2 separate regions of the Homo sapiens genome follow, and region 2 is linked to region 1. Evidence: fine-mapped expression QTL. Tissue or cell type: tibial nerve. Region 1 holds a variant in brackets; the other region holds the start of a gene. All regions are shown on one strand. Distances are from middle to middle.

Region 1 (10,474 bases):
GAAGAAAATTTGTTTCTGTTCTCCCCCTTCATGTTGCAATAATAGGGGATGAAAGTTAATGTTTCCTCTCCTTGAGATCTTCCTAAAACAGCTGTAGAAATCAGTGCCTGTAAGGCAAGCTTGTCCAACCTGGAGGCCACATGCAGCCCTGGATGGCTTTGAATGCACCCAACACAAATTTGTAGTTTCTTAAGGCATTATGAGATTTTTCCGCAATTTTTTTTTTTCTCATCAGCTGTCATTAGTGTTAGTGTGTTTTATGTGTGGCCCAAGACAATTCTTCCAGTGTGGCCCAGGGAAGCCAAAACATTGGACACTGCTATAAAGGTTCTCAAAGTAAGATCCAGGGACTCCTTTTGTAGGGCTCCTGAAGGTGGAAACTACTAAGACTTTTTTTTTCCTTTTTTTTTCCTTTTTTTTCTTTCTTTTTTTTTTTTTTTTGAGGCAGAGTCTCTCTGTGTCACCCAGGCTGGAGGGCAGTGGCATGATCTTGGCTCACTGCAACCTCCACCTCCCAGGTTCAAGCGATTCCCCTGCCTCAGCCTCCTGAATAGCTGGGACTACAGGCACGTGCCACCACACCTGGCTAATTTTTGTATTTTTAGTAGAGGTGGGGTTTTGCCATGTTGTCCAGGCTGGTCTCGAACTCCTGACCTCAAGTGATCCACCCGTCTCAGTCTCCCAAAGTGCTGAGATTACAGGTGTGAGCCACCACGCCCGGCCTACAAAGATGTTTATTTGCCTTTTTCACCCTGGTTCTCTCATGAGTATACAATGGAGTTTCCAGGAGGCTCTGCGACACCTGTTGGCATCATCACCAGATGGCTAATGGATTGTGTGCTGGTGTATCTCACGCTTTTAAATGTCCCAGTTTCTAGCCCGGTGCAGTTGCACCATCCCTGCTACTCGGGAGGCTGAGGCAGGAGGATAATTTAAGACTGGGAGTTCCAGAAGAAGACCTGGTGTCAAAAAAAAAAAAAATGGGGCAACGAAAATGAGAGCAATACAGCTTTCAAGAATGGGAGGGGCCAGGGGTGGTGATTCATGCCTACAGCACTTTGGGTGGCTGAGGCAGGCAGATCACTTGAGGTCAGGAGTTCAAGACCAGCCTGGCCAACATGGTGAAACACCGTCTCTACAAAAATTAGCCAGGCATGGTGGCATGTGCCTGTAATCCCAGCTAGTCAGGAGGCTGAGTCAGGAGAATCACTTGAACCCTGGAGGTGGAGGTTACAGTGAGCCAAGACAACACTGCTGCACTCCAGCCTGGGCGACGGAGTGAGACCCTGTCTCCAGAAAAAAAAAAAAAGAAGAATGGGCAGGAACTCAGTTCCTTGTGGAGGTGAACTATATTCCTATATGTTTCACGTGCAAAGTGTGTCCTTCCTGAGAGAATACAACTTAAGATGCTCCTGTGTAACAATCCCCCATACCTCGCTCATCTGCTATACCTGGATGGCCTCTGAAGGCCATGGGCCTCACACCTTTTGGTCTTAGGACCCCTTTACATTCTGAGAAATTATTGAGGACTCCAAAAAGCTCTTGATAAAGTGGGCTATATCTCTAGTTGCCTGATGTATTAGAAACTGAAACTGGGAAAATATTTTTACTGTTTATTTATTTATTTTTGAGACAGGGTCTCACTCTGTCGCCCAGGCTGGAGTGCAGTGGCGCGATCTCAGCTCACTGCAAACTCCACCTCCCAGTTTCAAGCGGTTCTCCTGCCTTGGCCTCCTGAGTAGCTGGAACTACAGGCGCCCGCCACCATGCCTGGCTAATTTTCATATTTTTAGTAGAGACAGGGTTTCACCGTGTTGGCCAAGCTGGTCTTAAACGCCTAACCTCAAGTGATCCACCCGCCTCAGCCACTCAAAATGCTGTGATTACAGGTGGGCCTGGCCTGCCCACATTTGATAGAAACAGACATAGGGGCTGTTATTTCACTGTCTTCTTAGCTCCCAGGAAGCAACAGCTCTCACTTGATGGTAAAGGGCATTGGTCATTCGGCCTCAATGTTGGGTGTGGGCAGGGAGTGGGAAGGCCCAGGCTGGGCGGGAGAGGGCTCCAAGACACGGCTGCCACACCCAAGGCAGGTAAACCTGACTAGAACTTCTGATTTTGTCAAGAGAAGGTGGGAATTCCTATTTTTATTAGAGATTTCTTGCTTTGACAGTATTGGCAACTGAGCAAAGCAATTTGTCTTTTAACATCAACATTCTGTGAGCCAAACGAAGCCCAGCTGGGCGCCAGATCAGTCTGGGGCACCATCAATGTCTGCCTTCGCTTTGGAATCCACAGAGGCTTGTCCTCTGGGAGGGGAGGTTTCCTGAATGAAAACTGAAGGGATAGGGAGAGGGGAGTTGTGGTGAGCTTGGCCTCTTATTAGCTGTAACATCTTGCATGCATCTTCTTCATATCCGGAGCTCCACCTCCTCATCTGTATTTTTTATTTTATTTTTTTAGTCTGGGTCTTGCTCCATAGCCCAGGCTGAAGTGCAGTGGTGTGATCATGGCTCACTGCAGTCTTGATCTCCCGGGCTCAAGCGATCCTCCCACCTCTGCCTCCTGAGTAGCTGGGACCGCAGGTGCCTATCACCACGCCCCGCTAAAGTTTTGTATTTTGTGTAGAGACGTGGATCTGGCTGTGTTGCCCAGGCGGGTCTCAAACTCATGGCTTCAAATGATCCTCCCACTTCAGCCTCCCAAAATGCTGGGACTACAGTTGTGAGCCACCATGCCTGGCCTCTCCTTACCTTTAAAAGAACAGAGGCACTGGGCGTGGTGGCTCACGCTGTAATCCCAGCACTTTGGGAGGCCAAGGCGGGTGGATCACCTGAGGTCAGGAGTTTGAGACCAGCCTGACCAACATGGTGAAACCCCGTCTCTACTGAAAATACAAAAATTAGCCAGGCGTGTTGGCGCACACCTATAATCTCAGCTACTCTGGAGGCTGAGGCAGGAGAATCGCTTGAACCCAGGAAGCAGAGGTTGCAGTGAACCAAGATCATGCCACTGCACTCCAGCCTGGGTGACAGAACAAGACTCCATCTCAAAAAAAAAAAAAAAAAACAAAAAAGGAACAGAAGCTAAGTCCATACAGGACTTAGCTTAACTGGCTCTAGAGCTGCTCAACCAAGGGAATGAGTGTGAAATTGCTTTGGAAACTGTCCAATGCTTCCTCAATGTAAAGGATTCATATTGACAGGAGAGGGTAGAGGCCTCCCTCCTGGCAGGTGGGAAACCTGAAATCAGGAATTACACTTAATGACACGGGGTGCTCTTCTCTCCTGAGCAAGCAGTTCTCTGGGGTGGTCCTAGAGAGATGGGAGAACATGTAAAGCAGAGATACTCAAATTTCAGCGTGCTCAAAATCTCCTGGAGGGCCTGCAAAAATGCAGATGGGTCCAGGCTCAGTGGCTCAAGCCTGTAATCCCAGCACTTTAGGAAGCTGAGGCTGGAGGATCACTTGAAGCCAGGAGTTCGAGACCAGCCTGGCCAACATGGTGAAAGCCCGTCTCTACTAAAAATACAAAAATTAGCTGGGTGTGGTGGTGCACACGTGTAGTCCCAGCTACTCGGGAGGTTGAGGCACGAGAATTGCTTGAACCTGGGAGGCAGAAGCTGAGGTGAGCTGAGACCTTGCCACTGCACTCTAGCCTGGGTGACAGAATGAGACTCTGTCTCAAAAAAAATTAAATAAATAAAAATAAAATGCAGATGAGGCTGGGCGTGGTGGAGCATGCCTATAATCCCAGTGGTTTACGAGGCTGAGACGGGAGGATTACTTGAGGCCAGGAATTCAAGGCTGCAGTGACCTATGATGGCACCACTGCACTGCAGCCTGGGTGACACAGTGAGACGATGTCTGTAAAACAAATAAACAAATAAACTGCAGATAGCTGGGCCTCCAGAATTTCTGATTCCACAGGTGCAAGGCGGGGCCCTTGACCTTGCATTTTGAGCAAGCTGCAGTCCTGTGGAGGACTGGTTGTGAAGCTGACACCATTGTCTGAGGGCAGCAAAGGCTCTTGGATGGATTGAGCCTCAGCTCCCATCTATGAGAGCTTTAAGCTTTAAGTGAGAGCTCCCCATGGCCGAGAGCTTCATTCTGAATTCCTGCTGCTAGGAATTCAAAACTCACATTGAAGTCCTAACGCCTAGTAGCTCAGAATGTGACCTTAGTTGGAGGCAGGGTCTTCACAGAGGTAATCAAGTTAAAATGAGACGGGAGAATCCTAATCCAATATAACTGGTTTCCTAAATCTGACAGGGTACAGTGACTCACACCTGTAATCCCAGCAGTTTGGGAGGCCAACACAGGAGGACTGCTTGAGATCAGGAATTCAAGACCAGCCTGGGCAATATAGTGAGACCCTGTCTCTAGCAAAAAAAAAAAAAAAAAAAAAAGTGCCAGTAGTCCCAGTTACTATTGAGAGGCTGAAGCAAGAGAGTCGCTTGAATCTGGAGGGTGGAGGTGGCAGTAAGGTATGATTGCACCACTGCATTCCAGCCTAAATGACAAAGCAATACTATGTCTCAAACATAAATAAATAAATAAATAAATAAATAAATAAATAAATAAACGGCAAATCTGGGCAGGGGTGAATACAGGGGGAAGGGAATGTGAAGATGAAGATGCCATACAGAGAAAGGCCCGGAACAGATCCTCACACCCCTCAGAAGGAACCAACACTGCCAGCACTTGATCTTGTTGATCTTGGAATTCAAGCTCAATTCTGGCAGGGTTTTTTGTTTGTTTGTTTGTTTGTTTGTTTGAGTCGGAGTCTTGCTCTGTTGCCCAGCCTGGAGTGCAGTGGCGCAATCTCCGCTCACTGCCAGCCCCGCCTCCCGGGTTCACGCCATTCTCCTGCCTCAGCCTCCTGAGTAGCTGGGACTACAGGCGCCTGCCACCATGCCCGGCTAATTTTTTGTATTTTTAGTAGAGACAGGGTTTCACCGTGTTAGCCATGATGGTCTCGATCTCCTGACCTCGTGATCTGCCCGCCTTGGCCTCCCAAAGCACTGGGAGTACAGGTGTGAGCCACCGTGCATGGCCTCAATTCCGGTTTTTAAGCCACCCAGTTTGTGAAACTTTGTTGTAACAGCCCTGGAAAACTGATACACCTGCTCTCTCGTAAAAGATCAGCTGATACGGCAGCACCGGCCACTGGATCTGCGGGTCAGTTGTCCCCTTAGACAGGGCACCTGCCCGCCAGTCACAGGTCCTGTCACCCAGCCCCTTCCTCTCATGGGCTCCAGCCGCCTCGCTCCCACAGGTCTCCTGGAGACCCGAGTTGCTGATGTCAGCGACTATTGCGAGTGCTCCTGTGGGACACTGTCCTCTCCCCAGCAACAGCCTTCAGTTCACACCCAGGGAGGAGATGGAGCCCCACACTGCACCAGCACACGACTCCAGCTCCAACTAGGTGGGTGTTGATGCTGAAGGCTGTGACATGCAAATACCCCCCAGGATCTCCTTGTCACCCCGACCACCACCACCAAAGCCCAGGCACCAGGCCCCTCTCTTCTCCAGGACCCAGGCATTCAAGCCCCGCCCGACTCTCAATGGTCCTTTGTCCCGGACTGGGAAAGGCACGGGCAGAGTCTGACATCATGAAGCCTGGGGTGGGGGTGGGACTCCCCCTCCCCCTCCAACTCCCCCCCAGCCCCACAACGCTTCTCTCCCTGGTCTGAGGGATTTCCCCGCCCCTCACCCCCTGGGTTCTCCCTTGAGAGCGAGGACCCCCCCTCCCCACTGCTCTGGCCTGAAGGAGGACAGGAGATGTCCCAGTGAGGCTGAACAGCTCATGGTGAAATCACTGCTGCACTTTGTCACGCCACCTCCAGCTGCCCCGAGCCCCCACCCACCTTGCAAAAGTCATGACCAAGGGGTGGAATCTGCACTCAGAGGGTCCTTGCCCAACTTGGTCAGCACAGTCCTATGTGCACCAAGCACTGCCCCGGGGACAGAAGGGTGCACATGACAGACAGAGAGGCAGATAGGTTTCTGGTGAGCCCCTGCCTCTGAGAGCTCCTGGGTTAGTGGGAGGCAGAGGCGGGCAGACCTAGGGTGCACACGGGCCAGCCTGCCAAGGCTACAGAAGGAAAGGACAGCATTGCAATGGAGGGGCCTGGCTGATGGGCGAAGATGGGAAAGCTTCCCAGGGAAGCGGCACCCAGGCTGCTGAGCCTACAGGATGGGTGAACGGCAGCCAGTGCCAGAGTGGGGAGTGCTATGGGGTGGGGACTGCTTTCCAGGAAGAATGAGCAGCAGGTGCACAGGCCTTGAGTCTGAAGGTGCCCTGGGGCTCTGGGGAACACATTCAACCACCCACACTGTTTATTAAGCTCAACTGCCTGCCAGGAGCTTGTCTACGAGCAAGGATGGATTGAGAATATCCAAGACGAAGCTTCTGGCCTGGTGGAGGTCACGTTCTCATGAAAGGAGTTGGTGAACACGGAAGGTCATTTCAGATGGCAAGAGGAGGTGACACTGACGTTGAGGGTGGAAAGGACCTGTCTCCTCCTGCTGCCCACCTAATGTTGCCACCAAGATTCCCTGAGGACAATGCCTCTGTCCCTCAGCCTGGGACTTCCAAAGAGATTAGACTGCCCCCCCACCCCCGGGACCCAGAATCAGGGTGTACAGGGATGGAAGATGGGGAGAGAGCAAGGCAGCCACTCCCGACCCCTCCAGGAAAGAGCTAGGAGAACCCAGGCGTCAGGCTGCCCAGTCCGAGCCCCGTGGTGACAAGGGCCCCTTTGTGCCCCCCTCCCC[C/T]GGGGGTAGGGAGGAGCTGGGCCCTGGAGGCAGGCGGCCCCTGGCACCCAGGGGGAGGGGAGGGGCTGGCAAGTGGGGGCCTAGACCCTGGAAGGCAGGGGACTGCGAGCTGGGCTGGCGGAGCAGAGGTGCAGAAGCAACTGAGTCCAAGTGAGTATGGTGGCAGGGAGGCCAGGGCAAGGGGAGCAGGGCACCGGGGCAGTGGCACCCAGACGTGAGCAGGGTCAGGTGCTCTGGGTGAGGGAGCATCGCTGTGCACCGCTACTGATTTAGGATGCAGGAGTGTGTGGCTTGGGGCTGCTTTGGGGATGGGCTCGGACCATCGCTGGGGCAGCGATGGGGCTCTGGGAAGAAACCACAGAGAGAAAAAACAAAGGGCCCCCCCTCAGCACCCCTTGTGGGTGAAGATTTTGCAGGAGAGGTTTCCTTGGGGTTCCCGAGTGCGGGGCAGATGGGGTGGAGGAGGTCTGCATCTGGCCGAAGAATGGAAGGATGTCCAGGTGATCAGACACCTGCAGGCTGCAATCTGGGAGGTGGATGGGGGCAGTGGGCTGTTAGTGACTGCATTCTAGCACCTGGGCACATAGCAGGTGTGTGTGTGTGTGTGTGTGCGTGTGCGTGCACACACATGGCTGCCCATGCACCTTCCTCTGTAAGCCTCAGTCGACTTTTCTTCATTAATCCCCACTAAGGACACTTTTTATTTTTCGTTACTTTTTTTTTTTTAAGAGACGGGACTCTCACTATATTGCCCAGGCTGGTCTCAAACTTCTGGGCACAAGAGATTCTCCCAACTTGGCCTTCCAAAGTGCTGGGTTTACAGGCGTGAGCCACTGCGCCCGGCCCCAACTACAGAAACTTTTTAGATGCATTTGTCCTCATCCCATCCTTCCCTTGGCATTTTAATCCAACAGATCTGCTGTACATATGTTTATGGACTGTGGCCACACACACTGTAATAGCTGAGGTTGATTTGGCCCCCATCCCGAGAACTTGTTTTCCCCGCTGTTAAGAGTGCATGGTCTACCTGCTTGTTTCATGTCTGCCCGGGCACGTGCTCATCCTCATCTGCATCTCTCTCCTGTACCTTCCTGTCACAGGTGCAAGGGCAGCGTCGGCCAGGTGTCCATCGGCGCGTGTCTGAGTGGACGCGTCTATAGCCATCCTCAGTGTGTGTGTGCAGTTCCTTGCATCTTTGTTAGCCTGGCATGCATGCTGGGCTGTGTGTGTGTGTGTGTGTGTGTGCTGAATGCCAGGGCTGTGTCTGTCCAGGTGTGTGTGGACAGCAGCAGAGGCATTGCATGCACGCCTTGGGAACTATGTGAGTGCCAGCCCATCCCTGTGGGCACAGGGGTCCCTGTGCCTGTCTGTGTGTTCAGGGTCCTGTCTGGGTGTCTGTATGAGTCTCCGCTGCGTGTGCCTGCCCCTTCTGGCTGGGGCTACATCTGTCACATTTCATCCCCGCGATTGGATGTGTCTGTGCATGTGTCTCTGTCCGTGGGAAGAGGGCGGTGAAGGCTGGGAAAAGCAATTGCTTGGAAACCCTGGCTGCAACCCCAAGGCAACCCATGGAGCAGCAGGGTGCCAGGGGCTCGCTAGCCCCCACCCTGGGCCTTCCTGGCCCTGCTCAAAGGCCAGCCAGGAGTGCCTGACCCCTTTCTTACTCCCCACTTACCCTGAAAGCCCCCCGCAGGCTAAAACACCCTCTCCCCGAGGGAACAGGACTCTTTTGTACCGGGGACCAGCTTCTGGTGAGGGTGCGGACACCAGGGGCCGTCTGTGGGGTGGGAGAGGGCGGCAGGAATTCACGCGGCATGTCGGGAATGCTGATACTGTGAAACCCAGTCATTGATGGCTCTGGGTCCCTGCCCGCCACCCCCAGGCCCCGGCCGTGGGACATCTGCTCCCTCACTCCACTCGCCACACCCCTCAGTCTCACCCCCGTACCCCGATGCGGTCGTTCCCCCTTCCCTCCCCACAGTTCTCTGACACCCCAGCTTGGAGGGAGTTGTTGCCAGAGAGTGGCTTCGAGGCTGTGTGGGAGGGTCCCAGGCACAATGGGAGGGCCACATGGGCAGCCTGACAACAGGTCACAACCCATGCAGGAGATACTGAAGCGGGGGTGGGTTGGGTGCCTCAATCCCGCCCCCTTGCACCTGAGTGACTCTTGTTGCATGCAGGTTGTCTGGCGGCTTCAGGTGGACCCAGAAGACGTCCCCAACTCAGGGAGATTCAGGTGAGGGGCAGGGTACCAACTCTCTTCCCTTGCTTCAGCTTTGCAATGCTGGCCCTGCCTTGGCTCTCTGGTTCTTACTTTCTGGAGATCTCCAGGGGCATCACGGTGACAAAGATAATGATCAGCACATCATCACTGCATAGAGACAGGACATGCAGCAAAGACTGCAGACCAACTGTGTGGCCTTGGGCGAGTCACTTAACCTCTCTGGACCTCAGCTATAAAATGAGGATAATGCATCTTCCTCAAAGAGATCCAATGAGTTAAGACAGCAGAATAAGCAGTGAGGGCTGGCACATGGCCAATGCCATAGAAGGGTTTATAATTATAAGTAATAGCAGCAGGCTGGGTGAGGTGGCTCATGCCTGTAATCCCAACACTTTGGGAGGCTGAGGCAGGAGGATCGCTTGAGCCAAGGAGTTCAAGACCAGTCTGGGCAACACAGAACATGGCAAGACTCCCATCTCTAAAAAAAATAATAATAATAACCAAATAAATAAACTAAAATAAAATTAGCCAGGCATGGTGGTGTGTACCTGAGGTCCCAGTTACTCTGAAGGATCGCTTAAGCCTGGCAGATTGAAGCTGCAGTTGAGTGAGCCACGATTGCACCACTGCATTCCAGGCTGGGTGACAGGGCTGAGACCCCATCTCAAAAAGTAAAAAGTTAAAAAATATCAGCAGACCAGGCATGGTGATTTACACCTGTAATCCTTTGGGAAGCCAAGGCAGGAATATTGCTGGAGGCCAGGAGTTGAAGACCAGCCTGGGCAACATAGTAAGACCCCACCTCCACAACCATTTCCACAAAAAAGAAGAAAAATTAACTGGGTGTGGGGTGGCGCATACCAGAAGCTGAGACAAGAGGATAACACGAGCTCAGGATTTTGAGGCTATAGTGAGCTGTTATTGTGTCACTGCATTCCAGCCCGGGCAATGAAACAAGACCCTGTCTCAGAAAAATAAGTAAATAAATGCATAAATAAATAATAATAGCAGCAGCAGCTAACATATGAATGGGCCCCTTCCTGAAGCCCAGATGGAACACCCCCTTTCACTTCCCCCAGCCTTTAACCCTCTCCTCTCCCTTTCCAGCGATCACTCACTCGCTGTACAGAATGATATTCCTCACGGCACTGCCTCTGTTCTGGATTATGATTTCAGGTAACGGCTGACAGGTGCTGGGGACCTAAAGGCTTTGGCCCCTGAGCAGGTTGGAGGTGGGTCCCCGCAGCCCCCCGGCATGTGGTTGGGGATGGGAGCCGGAGGGGGTGATCGGGTAGGACGTGTCCCTGAGCCTCAGCTCTCCTGCTTGCCCGCAGCCTCCCGAGGGGGTCACTGGGGTGCCTGGATGCCCTCGTCCATCTCGGCCTTCGAAGGCACGTGCGTCTCCATCCCCTGCCGCTTTGACTTCCCGGATGAGCTGCGGCCCGCTGTGGTGCATGGTGTCTGGTACTTCA
Region 2 (10,785 bases), 38 kb after region 1:
AAAGGCAGAGGAGAACAAAGGAAGGAGAAAGTAACGTGGAATACTGAGAAAAGTAAAAACATTTCTAAATAAGGAAGAGGAACAGGCTTTGACTTAATGCTTTCTTGGACTAGTATAAGCATGCTAGGGCAAATCTTTAGGCTAAATTGTAGGATCTAAGAACATAAAGTACATTGATTTTTTTATTATGGCTAGTAGATATTTAAGAATGTTAGCACAGGTCTTTGAATAAATTTTGCTTCTAAGAGAAGTTACTATTTATTCTTAATTAGATGGGGAGGACAGTCTCTTTGAAAAGGAACTTCTACTTTACTATTTACACTGGGATTACCAGCATGTACCGCCACGACCAGCTCATTTTGTATTTTTAATAGAGACAGGATTTCACAATGTTGGCCAGGCTGGTCTCGAACTCCTGACCTCAGGTGATTGCCCTCCTTGGCCTCGCAAAATGCTGAGATTACTCCTGACCTCAGGTGATCGCCCACCTCGGCCTCCCAAAGTGCTGGGATTACAGGCGTGAGCCACCGTGCCTGGCCTGTTTCCAGTTTTTGGCTATTACAAACAAAGCTGCTGTGAATAATTGTGTGCAGGTTTTTATGTGGACATACGTTTTCATTTCTTAGGGATAAAATGCCCAGGAGTGCAATTGCTGGGTCATCTGGTAGGTATATTTTGTTTAGTTTTTCAGGAAACCGGCAAACTGTTTTCCAGAGTAGCTGGACCACTTTGCATCCCCACCAGTCGTGTGTGAATGTTTCAAGTTCACAGCATCCTCACCAGTGTTTGGTGTTGTCATTATTGGTTATTTAATTTTAGCTGTTCTAAAGCGGTATCTTGTCATGGGTTTCAATTTGCATTTCACTAATGGCTGGTGATGTGAGACATCTTTTCATGTGCTTATTTGCCTTCTATATACCTTCTTCAGGGAAAGGTGTCATCATGTCTTTTGCCTATTTTCTAACTGGACTGTTTTTTATTTATTTATTTATTTATTTATTTATTTATTTATTTATTTAGAGACAGAGTCTCACTCTGTCGCCCAGGCTGGAGTGCAGTGGTGGGATCTCAGCTCACTGCAACCTCCGCCTCCTGGGCTCAGGTGACTCTCCTGCCTCAGCTTCCTGAGCAGCTGGGATTATAGGCGCACACCACCATGCCTGCTAATTTTTGTATTTTTAGTAGAGATGGGGTTTTGCCATGTTGGCCAGGCTGGTCTTGAACTCCTGACCTCAGGTGATCCACTTTGCTTCCCAAAGTGCTGGGATTACAGGTGTGAGCCATCGTGCCCAGCCTGATTTTTATTTTATATATATATATATGTACACACACACACACAATATACATACACACACATATATGCACACATATGTGTGTTAAAGCTGTATGTAAAGCTGTTATATATTACATATATACTACATATATAACAGCTTTGCTGAGATATAATTCACATACCATAAAACACACCCATGTAAAATGTCCAATTGAATGGTTTTGGGTCTATTCACTGAATTATGCAACCATCACCACAACCAGTTTTAGAACATTTCATCACCCCAAAATAATCTCACATCCATTAGCAGTCACTCTTCATTTCCTCTTACCTTTCCCACCCCACCCCAGCCCTACGCAACCGCTACATCTACTTCTGTCTCTACAGATTTGCCTTTTCTGAATATTTCACGTGAATGGAATCATACAATATGTGACATTTTGTGATTGGCTTCTTTCACTTAATGTTTTCAAAGTTCATCCATATCCAGGCGCCGTGGCTCACGCCTGTAATCCCAGCACTTTGGGAGGCCAAGGCGGGTGGATCACCTGAGGTCAGGAGTTCAGGACCAGTCTGGCCAACATGGTAAAACCCCGTCTCTACTAACAATATGAATAATTAGCTGGGCGTGGTGGCGGATGCCTGTAATCCCAGTCACTCAGAAGGTTGAGGCAGGAGAATCGCTTGAACCTGGGAGGCAGAGGTTGCAGTGAGCCGAGATGGCACCACTGCACTCCAGCCTGGGCAACAAGTGAAACTCGGTCTCGAAAAAAAGTTCATCCATGTTGTAGTATCTATCAGTACTTCATTCCTTTTTATTATCAAATAATATTTTATTGTTTAGGTCTCCCATATTTTCTTTATTCATTCATCTCTTCATGGACATGTGGGTTGTTTCTGCTTTTTGGCTTTCATGAATAATGCTGCTGTAAACATTTGTGTTCAAGTTTCTGGGTGAACATGTTCTTATTTCTCTTGGTTATATATGTAAGAGTGGAGATGCAGGAGTGTATGGTAATTCTATGCTTAATCTTTGGAGGAACTGTTTTGAGACTTTTTTCCAGAGTGGCTGGACAATTTTATATTCACACTAGCAATATATAAATGATTTAGTTTCCATACATCTTTCCAGTATTTGATACTATCTTTTATTTTAGCTGTTCTTATAGATGTTAGTAGTGATATCTCATCATGGTCTTAACCTGTCTAAAGGCTAGTGATGTTGAATATCTTTTTAGATAATTATTTTCTATCCATATATCCCCTTGGGTGAAATTTCTCTTTATATCTTTTGCCAGTCTTCTAATTGGATGATTTGATTTTTTTATGTAGTGTTTCTATGTTGAATTTGAGAGTTCTTTATATATTTGTTCTAGATAGGAGTCCTTTGTCAGATATGTGGTTTGCAAATATTTTCTCTTAGTCTGTAATTTGTCTTTTCATTCTCTTAACTAGGTCTTTTACAGAGCAAAAAAAAATTAATTTTGATGAAGTTGGATTGATTTTTTTAGGGATCATGCCTTTGGTGTCATGTCTAAGAACACTTCATCAAGCTCTAAGTCTCACAGATTTTCTCCTATGTTATCTTCCAGAGGTTTTTTGTTTTTATTTTATTTTACTTTTTAATTAAGACAGAGTTTCGCTCTGTTGCCCAGGCTGGAGTGCAGTGGCAGGATCTCAGCTCACTGCAACCTCCGCCTCCCAGGTTCAAGTGATCCTCCTGCCTTGGCCTCCTGAGTAGCTGGGACTACAGGCACGCACCACCCAACTGGCTAATTTTTTGCATTTTTATGTGGTTGCTTTCGAGAATTTTCTCTGCCTCTTGTTTTTAGAAGTTTGACTATGATGTGTCTTGGCATGAATTTCTTTGGGTTTATCCTGTTTGTGATGCGCTCAGCTTCTTGAATCTGTAGACATATGTTGTGCGTGTGTGTTGTCAAATGAAGATAATTTGCAGCCATTACTTCTTGGAATATTTTTTTAAGGCCCACCCTCCTTTTCCTCCCCTTCTGGGACTTCAATGACAAAATGTTAGATCTTCTTTTATTATAGTTACTCATGTCCTTGAGGCTTTGTTCCATTTTCTTTCATCTATTTTCTTTCCATTGTTCAGAATGGGTAATTTCTATTGTTATACGTTTTGTTTCACTGCTTCTTTCTTCTATACTCTCCATTCTGCTATTGAGCCCATCCATTATGGTTTTTATTTCAGCTCTTGTATTTTTTAGTTGTATTTTTTAGTTCTAAAGTTTCCATTTGGTTCTTCTTTATATTTTCTATTTCTTTGCTGATACTTTTTATTATTTTATTTGTTTCAAGCACATTTATAATTTCTCAGTGAAACACTTTTATGATGGCTGCTCCAAAATCTTTGTCAGATAATTCTAACATCTGTGTCGTCTTGATGTTTGTGTCTGTTAATTATCTTTTGTTATTCAGTTTGAGAATGCCTGATTCCTAGTATGACAAGTGATTTGCCATTGAAGTCAGGATATTCTGGGCACTGTGTTATAAGATTCTGGATCTTCTTTAAATATTTTGTTTTAGTGGGCTTCCCTTTATACTGCTCCAGCGAAATAAAGTAGGGCACTGCCTGATTGCTTCCAGACAGGGATAAAAGTCCAGGTTCTCCATCCAGCCTTTCCTGAACCTGGGGGGTTGGGAGAGATGAGGCCTCCATGTTATTGTTTGGTAAGGGTAGAAGTTCAGGTTCCCCACTAGGAATCCATGACAACTCCCTGGCTGGGAGTGGGAGGGATGCTTCATTACTGCTCCCTATGTGGCTTTCACTGACACTGTGTGTGGCAGAGAGAGGGGGGTGCTTGTTACCACTGAGTGGTGGCGAAAGTCCCAACTCTCCACCAGGCCCCCTTTGACACTACTCCAATGGGGCCGGGTGGAATGCCTCATTTCTGCATTGGGGTGGCAGTGGATGTCCAGGCTGCCCACATGGTTTCCACCAACACCACATCGGGGGAGGGTGATCCCAGTGGGGAGGAATGTCCCAGCTCCAACTCTAGCATCACTCTGGCTGAGTATGGGAGTGGCCTAGGGTTCTTTGTTACAGCCTGGTGAAGGTGAATGTCTAGGTTTTCCATCCGGCCTTTGCTGACAAGGGTGATGATGGAACTTGGATGGAGCGGAGCAGGTATGGACTAAAAGAGCTCTGTCTTTCTAGGATGCCCCTTTCCTCGTTCTTTGGCTAGAAAAGCATAGTTTTGCTAGAACTTGTTCTGTTGGGACTTTTTCTTGTTTGTGCCCCTTGGCATTTTCAGTTGTTGGCTTCTCCAGTATTCAGCCTGAGATATATGAGGCAAAGAGAAATCCCAGGGAATTCACCACCATTCCTTAAGTCCCGAGGTTCCTAACCAGTCTGCTTCTCTCCATCTTTCAGTCTTCTTATGCTTGTCTTGTCACGTTCAAGGTTTTCAGTTATACTTGGCAGAATAAATAAATACATCTACTCCATCTTTCCAGAACATCACTGCTTTTTGTTCATTTTATTTATTTATTATTTACTGAGACAAGGTCTTACTTTGTTGCCTGGGCTGGAGTGCAGTGGTGCTATCATGGCTGACTGAAGCCTTGAACTCCCAGGCTCAAGCGATCCTCCTGCCTCAGCCTCCCAAGTAGTTTGGACCACAGGCATGGGCCACCATGCCCAGCTACTTTTCATTTTTTGCTTTTGTTGACTAGCCCCACAGAGTTTTGCTGTGTTGTTCAGGTTGGTCTCAAACTTCTGGCCTTAAGCAATCCTCTTGCCTTGCTCTCCCAAAGCGTATTACAGGCATAAGTCACCACACCCAGCCCTATCGGTGCTTTTGGAAGAAGGTGTTCTTCCCTCTCTCTGTTTCCCTCCCTATGGCCAGCTGCCCATAGAGGGCAGTGGTGCTGGAGTGAAGACCTCTCAGCGCATCCCTCTTCATCTGTAGGATGTGCATGGCTTCCAATGCTGTCTGTTCTGCTCCTGAGACACTCGCTGGCTACAGGATTATAAAGGTGATGAGGTTTCAGCCTAAAGACTCTCCATTCAATAACACTTCCTACAAGATATCTTTTTTGTTTTTTTGAGACAGGATCTGGCTCTGTCACCCAGGCTGGAGTGCCACAGCGCGATCTGCTCACTGCAACCTCAGCCTCTCGGGCTTAAGTGATTCTCCTGCCTTAGCCTCCTGAGTAGCTGGGACCACAGGCGCCCGCCACCACACCCAGCTAATTTTTGGATTTTTTTTTTTTTTTTTTTTAGTAGAGATGGGGTTTTACCATGTTGCCCAAGCTGGTCTTGAACTCCTGAGCTCAGGCAATCCACCCGCCTTGGCCACCCAAAGCGCTAGGATTACAGGCATGAGCCACCATGCCCAGTCCTACAAGATATCTTTTCTTTTTCTTTCTTTCTTTCTTTCTTTCTTTTTTTTTTTTTGAGACAGAGTCTCACTCTGTCACCCAGGCTGGACTGCAGTGGTGTGATCTCTTCTCACTGCAGCCTCCGCCTCCTGGGCTCAAGTGATTCTCCTGCCTCAGCCCCCTGAGTAGCTGGGACTACAGGCGCCTGCCAAAACACTTAGCTAATTTTTTGTATTTTTAGTAGAGACGGAATTTCACCATGTTCGCCAGGCTGGTCTCGAATTCCTGACCTCAAGTGATCCACCCGCCTCAGCCTCCCAAAGTGTTGGGATTCCAGGCATGAGCCACCGCACCCGGCCGAGATATCTTTTTCCTCCTCAATATCTATGTGCTCCTCCCTCAACCCTTGGGGGCTTCAGTGTAGGTGGTCAGATTCCCCACCATTTATGCCTATGATGAAAAGAGTGGAAATGGTAATAACTGGATGGTGTCACTAAACTACAAATACTTTCAGGTAGGCCTGTGCCTTTTTCAGCGGGCTGCAGTTCTCCTGCTTGGCTTGAGTCATTCGCATTTCCTGAGAGCTGGGTAGAGGGGGAGTTGTGGAGGAGCCCATTCTGAAACTGATCTGATATTGCAAACCCATACACGGAAAGGAAGAACTGCCCATACGTATTCGAGTCTTCCAATCTGACTCCGAGCCCGCATCCCCCTCAATCGTCTCTTTTCCCCACTCCCCAGATCACGGTGCTGCTTGGTCCCCCTCAGAGCCATAGAGAAGCAGGGGGTGTGGCCATGGAGGGGAAACCTCTGTCACCAGAGACTTTACTGTACTTCTCCTTTTGCTCTCAGATGCTGCCAGGGTCCCTGAAGAGGGAAGACACGCGGAAACAGGTAAAAATCATTTTGCTTTTATTTTGCATTCAACAAGCAAGTTATTACGGAACAGCAGTTATGGGCCAGGCATACCTCCCAGAGCTGGGAACACAGTGGGGACCTCCCTGGCTCTCTCTTACCGGTGTTACAACAGGTTGTAGACAGACCCCTGTCTTGAGCATCCTCCTTGCCAGGCCTGCTGAGTCTTCTGAGAGTAGGGTAGGTTATTGGATGCCCAGGAGGGAAGAAGGAGCCAGGGAGGTCAGCCCCAAGGTTCTGCAAGGCCCTCAACAGGCCTGGACTGAGGAGGTCTGGACAGCATGGCCCTGTCCTGAGCCTCTGTGCATAATAACTGCTGTCCCTAACCTCCACCCCACCCTCAGCCTTCCAATTCCCGGGCCTGGGGCCCTACTCCTGTGCTCCAGAGACTCCTGGAGCTCCTTGAGGCAGCACACAGTCCTGCTCTGGAGGCGCCCATCTCCCACTCATGCTGGGATGCTCCAGCCCGTCCCAGAGCAGGTTGTGGCTGGAGGGTGCTGGCAGAGGAGGGACAATGGCCCGGCTCCTGGAGGCAAGTGTTGGCTGCAGGGAACGGAGTCTAGTCCTTGCCACAGCCCTTGTTACCCCTTAGGTAACCTTAAGGGGATTTCAAAGAACTCTGGCTCTGCAACCCTGCTAAGTTTTTTATGGAACATGTAAAATAGATCCCATGGCCAAAGAAGTATGGACAATGTATTATACTATACTCTAATCCCCATGTCTAGAGATTAATGGTGTAGATAGAGTTTACTGAAAGGTTTTTAAAGTCCTGCAGTAAAGAATCTTACTTAAGCCAGGTGCGGTGGCTCACGCCTGTCATCTCAGCACTTTGGGAGGCCAAGTTGGGGGGATCACCTGAGGTCAGGAGTTTGAAACCAGCCTGGCCAACATGGTGAAACCCCATCTCTACTAAAACAAACAAACAAACAAACAAATCAGACGGGTGTGGTGGCACATGCCTATAGTCCCAGCTACTCAGGAGGCTGAGGCAGGAGAATCACTTGAACCCTGGAGGCAGAGGATGCAGTGAACTGAGATCACACCACTGCACTTCAGCCTGGGCGACAGAAGAATGAGACTCTGTCTCAAAAGAAAAAAAAAGAATCTTACTTAACTCTTTTACCCTGCCTTTCTCAAGTGTATGTGACCTTGAAGATGTTTTTTGCATGTGACATGATGAGTACCTGCGGGGCTGATGTCAGCTCTGCCTGGGGAATCTGCCTCAGCTTCAGACCCTGCACCCCAAATTCATGCTTAGCCCAGGCCAGACCCCCTTCCTGCTGTCGGCAAGCAGCTTAGCTTTCCGCACACCCATGAACAGATACCCAGCAGCCTTTGGCATGAGCCATGTGGCCCGAGGAGATAAACAGACAGAGAGAGGAACATTGATGCGTGTGAAATGTTGGCAGGTGAGTGGGAGGGGCTTGGGTTGGTGCTGAGACCGGAGACACACTCTGCTGTCACATCCTTCAGGGTCCCCGGGGGCCAGCACGGAGGGCCATGATCATGTAAATTGGGACTTAAATTTAACTCTATGTAAATATAACTCTATGCAGAGGTCAGGGATGGTAGAGGACAAGCTCACTGCAGAGAAAGAAAGAAAGATGGGCAACAGTTGCAGAACCTAACCCACAGATAGGTTTTGTTTGACCAGCTCTGTACATTTTTAGTTTATTTTTTATCTTTTTGAGACAGGGTCTTGCCCTGTCGCCCAGGCTGGAGTGCAGTTGCATGATCTCGGCTCATTCCAACTTCTACTTCCCGGGTTCAAGCAATTCTCCTGCCTCAGCCTCATGAGTATCTGGGATTACAGGTGTACGCCACCACGCCTGGCTAATTTTTTGCATTTTGAGTAAAGATGGGGTTTTGCCATGTTGGCCAGGCTGGTCTTGAACTCCTGACCTCAAGTGATCTGCCTGCCTTGGCATCCCAAAGTATTGGGATTACAGGTGTGAGCCACTGCGCCTGGCTCACCCATACTTTGTTACTGGTTTTAGAATTCCTTTTTACCTGGTCTTTCAAACCAAGTTTTGACCATGTCTGTCCCTGAGTATAATCCTTGATGAGTAGCACCAGAGAGAGCTCCACGTTACCCGGGGCCTGGCATTCAAAGCACTCAGTGGTCTGGTGCCACTCAAAGCCTGTGAGCCAGGCAGGAAGTTTATAAAATTAGAGATGGATGAATGGATGGATGGGAAAAAGCAAGCAAGGGAGGAAGGAAGGAAGAAAGGAAGGAGTTCTGGGAAGAGAGAGAGGCTGCCCCCGCAGGGCTCTCAGTTTGAAGGAGAGGTGCAGCACACTCAGAAAAAACTCCCGGCCAGGAGTGGTGGCTCACACCTGTAGTGCCAGCACTTTGGGAGGCCAAGGCTGGCAGATCACCTGAGATCAGGAGTTCAAGACCAGCCAGGCCAACATGGTGAAACCCCATCTCTACTGAAAATACAAAAATCAGCCAGGCGTGGTGGCACCTGCCTTTACCCAGCTACTTGGGGGGCTGAGGCCAGAGAAACGCTTGAGCCTGGGAAGCAGAGGTTGCAGTGAGCGGAGATCACACCACTGCACTCTAGCCTGGGAGACAGAGCAAGACTCTGTCTCAAAAAAAAAGAAAGAACTCCGTGAGCATCCCAAATGCCACATCCCCATAATGCAACCAGACCCGGTCCTCCCGGATCCAGGGGAAGGGTCGGAGCTCAGTGGGTGAGCAAGAAAAGCCACGTGGAAGAAGTAAGCGGCCAGATGGCTCAAAGACAAACTCTCCCCTGCTCAGGCTTGCACCCAGACACGACACCATGCATCTCCTCGGCCCCTGGCTCCTGCTCCTGGGTAAGGACTGTGGCCTGGGCTAGTACTGGGGTTCTGGGATGTCAGTGGGCACTGGAGGAGGAGGAAAGACCCAGGCAGAGAGGCGTCAACATAGGGTAGGGTGGGGGCAGCGGTGTGTATAGATAAATGTACATACAAATATATATGTTTCCCATATATACATACACTTCTCTCATTGCATCCTGCTGTCTTTGTGTATCTCTGTATTTCTCCCACTATCTTCAGAGGGAATTCTTTAGTCTTTAGAAAGCTCTCTGCTGGGTGCAGTGGCTCATGCCTGAAATCTCAGCACTTTGTGAGGCTGAGGTGGGAGGATCACTTGAGGTCAGGAGTTCAAGGCCAGCTTGGACAACATAGCAAGACCCCTATCTCTAAAAAGAATAAAAAATTAAACAAATTTTAAAATAAAAAATAACTTTTAAAAGAAGGCTCTCATGCCCCCTTAGTAATGCTTTCTGATCACTGTGGTGAGTTCTAGAATACTTGGCTTTCTCTGACTCAAGTAAATGGGTTTTTGAGCACCCTGAAACCCTCTACGCCTGGGAGGGGGCCTGCGTCTGGATCCCCTGCACCTACAGAGCCCTAGATGGTGACCTGGAAAGCTTCATCCTGTTCCACAATCCTGAGTATAACAAGAACACCTCGAAGTTTGATGGGACAAGACTCTATGAAAGCACAAAGGATGGGAAGGTTCCTTCTGAGCAGAAAAGGGTGCAATTCCTGGGAGACAAGAATAAGAACTGCACACTGAGTATCCACCCGGTGCACCTCAATGACAGTGGTCAGCTGGGGCTGAGGATGGAGTCCAAGACTGAGAAATGGATGGAACGAATACACCTCAATGTCTCTGGTAAGGCCTTCGGGGAGCGGGTCCTCTGCTCTGGGCAGGGGTGAGTGGGAGGCAGGAAATACCTGACTCCTGGCACAGAGCTCACAAACCGAGCTTCCTGCAGAGCTCAGGCAGGGGACGCCAGCGGATGACGATGGCGATGCAGCAGCACTAGACAGAGCTGCGGGACCTCGGATGTCCCATCTGACCCTCAGTTCCTGCCCCTCTGGGACCTGGATTCCAAAGTTATCGGATCTCCTGATCTTTCCCTCTTTCTTTCTCACCATGTATTTTTCAGCTTTTGTGACAAACTCGTGTTTGGCCTTAGTACTGGAACCATCCAAGCACCGCATTCCTTTAGTGGGGTGGGTCTGCATGTAACCAGCCTCAGCTCTCCCCCAGGCTGGACCGCCCCCTTCAGACATTGGGGTCTGAAGCTGCATCGCTCACCCCAAACTTAGGGCTGCTCAGAGCTCCCTATAGAGGAAACTGGGTGTGGAACGGAGTAACCACACTCCCTAGGGCAGAGGCCCCAGACCTGTGTTTGATGGGTCAAATCCACCCCTACATGTGCAGTGCCATAACTGAGCCTGTGTTATAA

What was found. PIP is the estimated chance that this variant, and not a neighbour inherited with it, causes the effect.
Region 2: CD22 starts here. The variant in region 1 is fine-mapped to the expression of CD22 in tibial nerve (GTEx, PIP 0.93).

Annotation. Positions count from the first base shown.
Region 1 is chr19:35,285,277-35,295,750 of GRCh38, forward strand. It overlaps MAG (myelin associated glycoprotein), which reads left to right and starts at 6,885. Exons shown (of 11, transcript NM_002361.4): 1 at 6,885-6,928; 2 at 8,959-9,014; 3 at 10,110-10,178; 4 at 10,337-10,474. The coding sequence starts at 10,133. The variant C/T (reference allele first, on the strand shown) is at 6,779.
Region 2 is chr19:35,322,720-35,333,504 of GRCh38, forward strand. It overlaps CD22 (CD22 molecule), which reads left to right and starts at 6,468. Exons shown (of 14, transcript NM_001771.4): 1 at 6,468-6,511; 2 at 9,300-9,355; 3 at 9,828-10,205. The coding sequence starts at 9,322. RefSeq lists silencers at 730-789, 10,586-10,785 and enhancers at 7,045-7,094, 7,165-7,214, 8,345-8,394.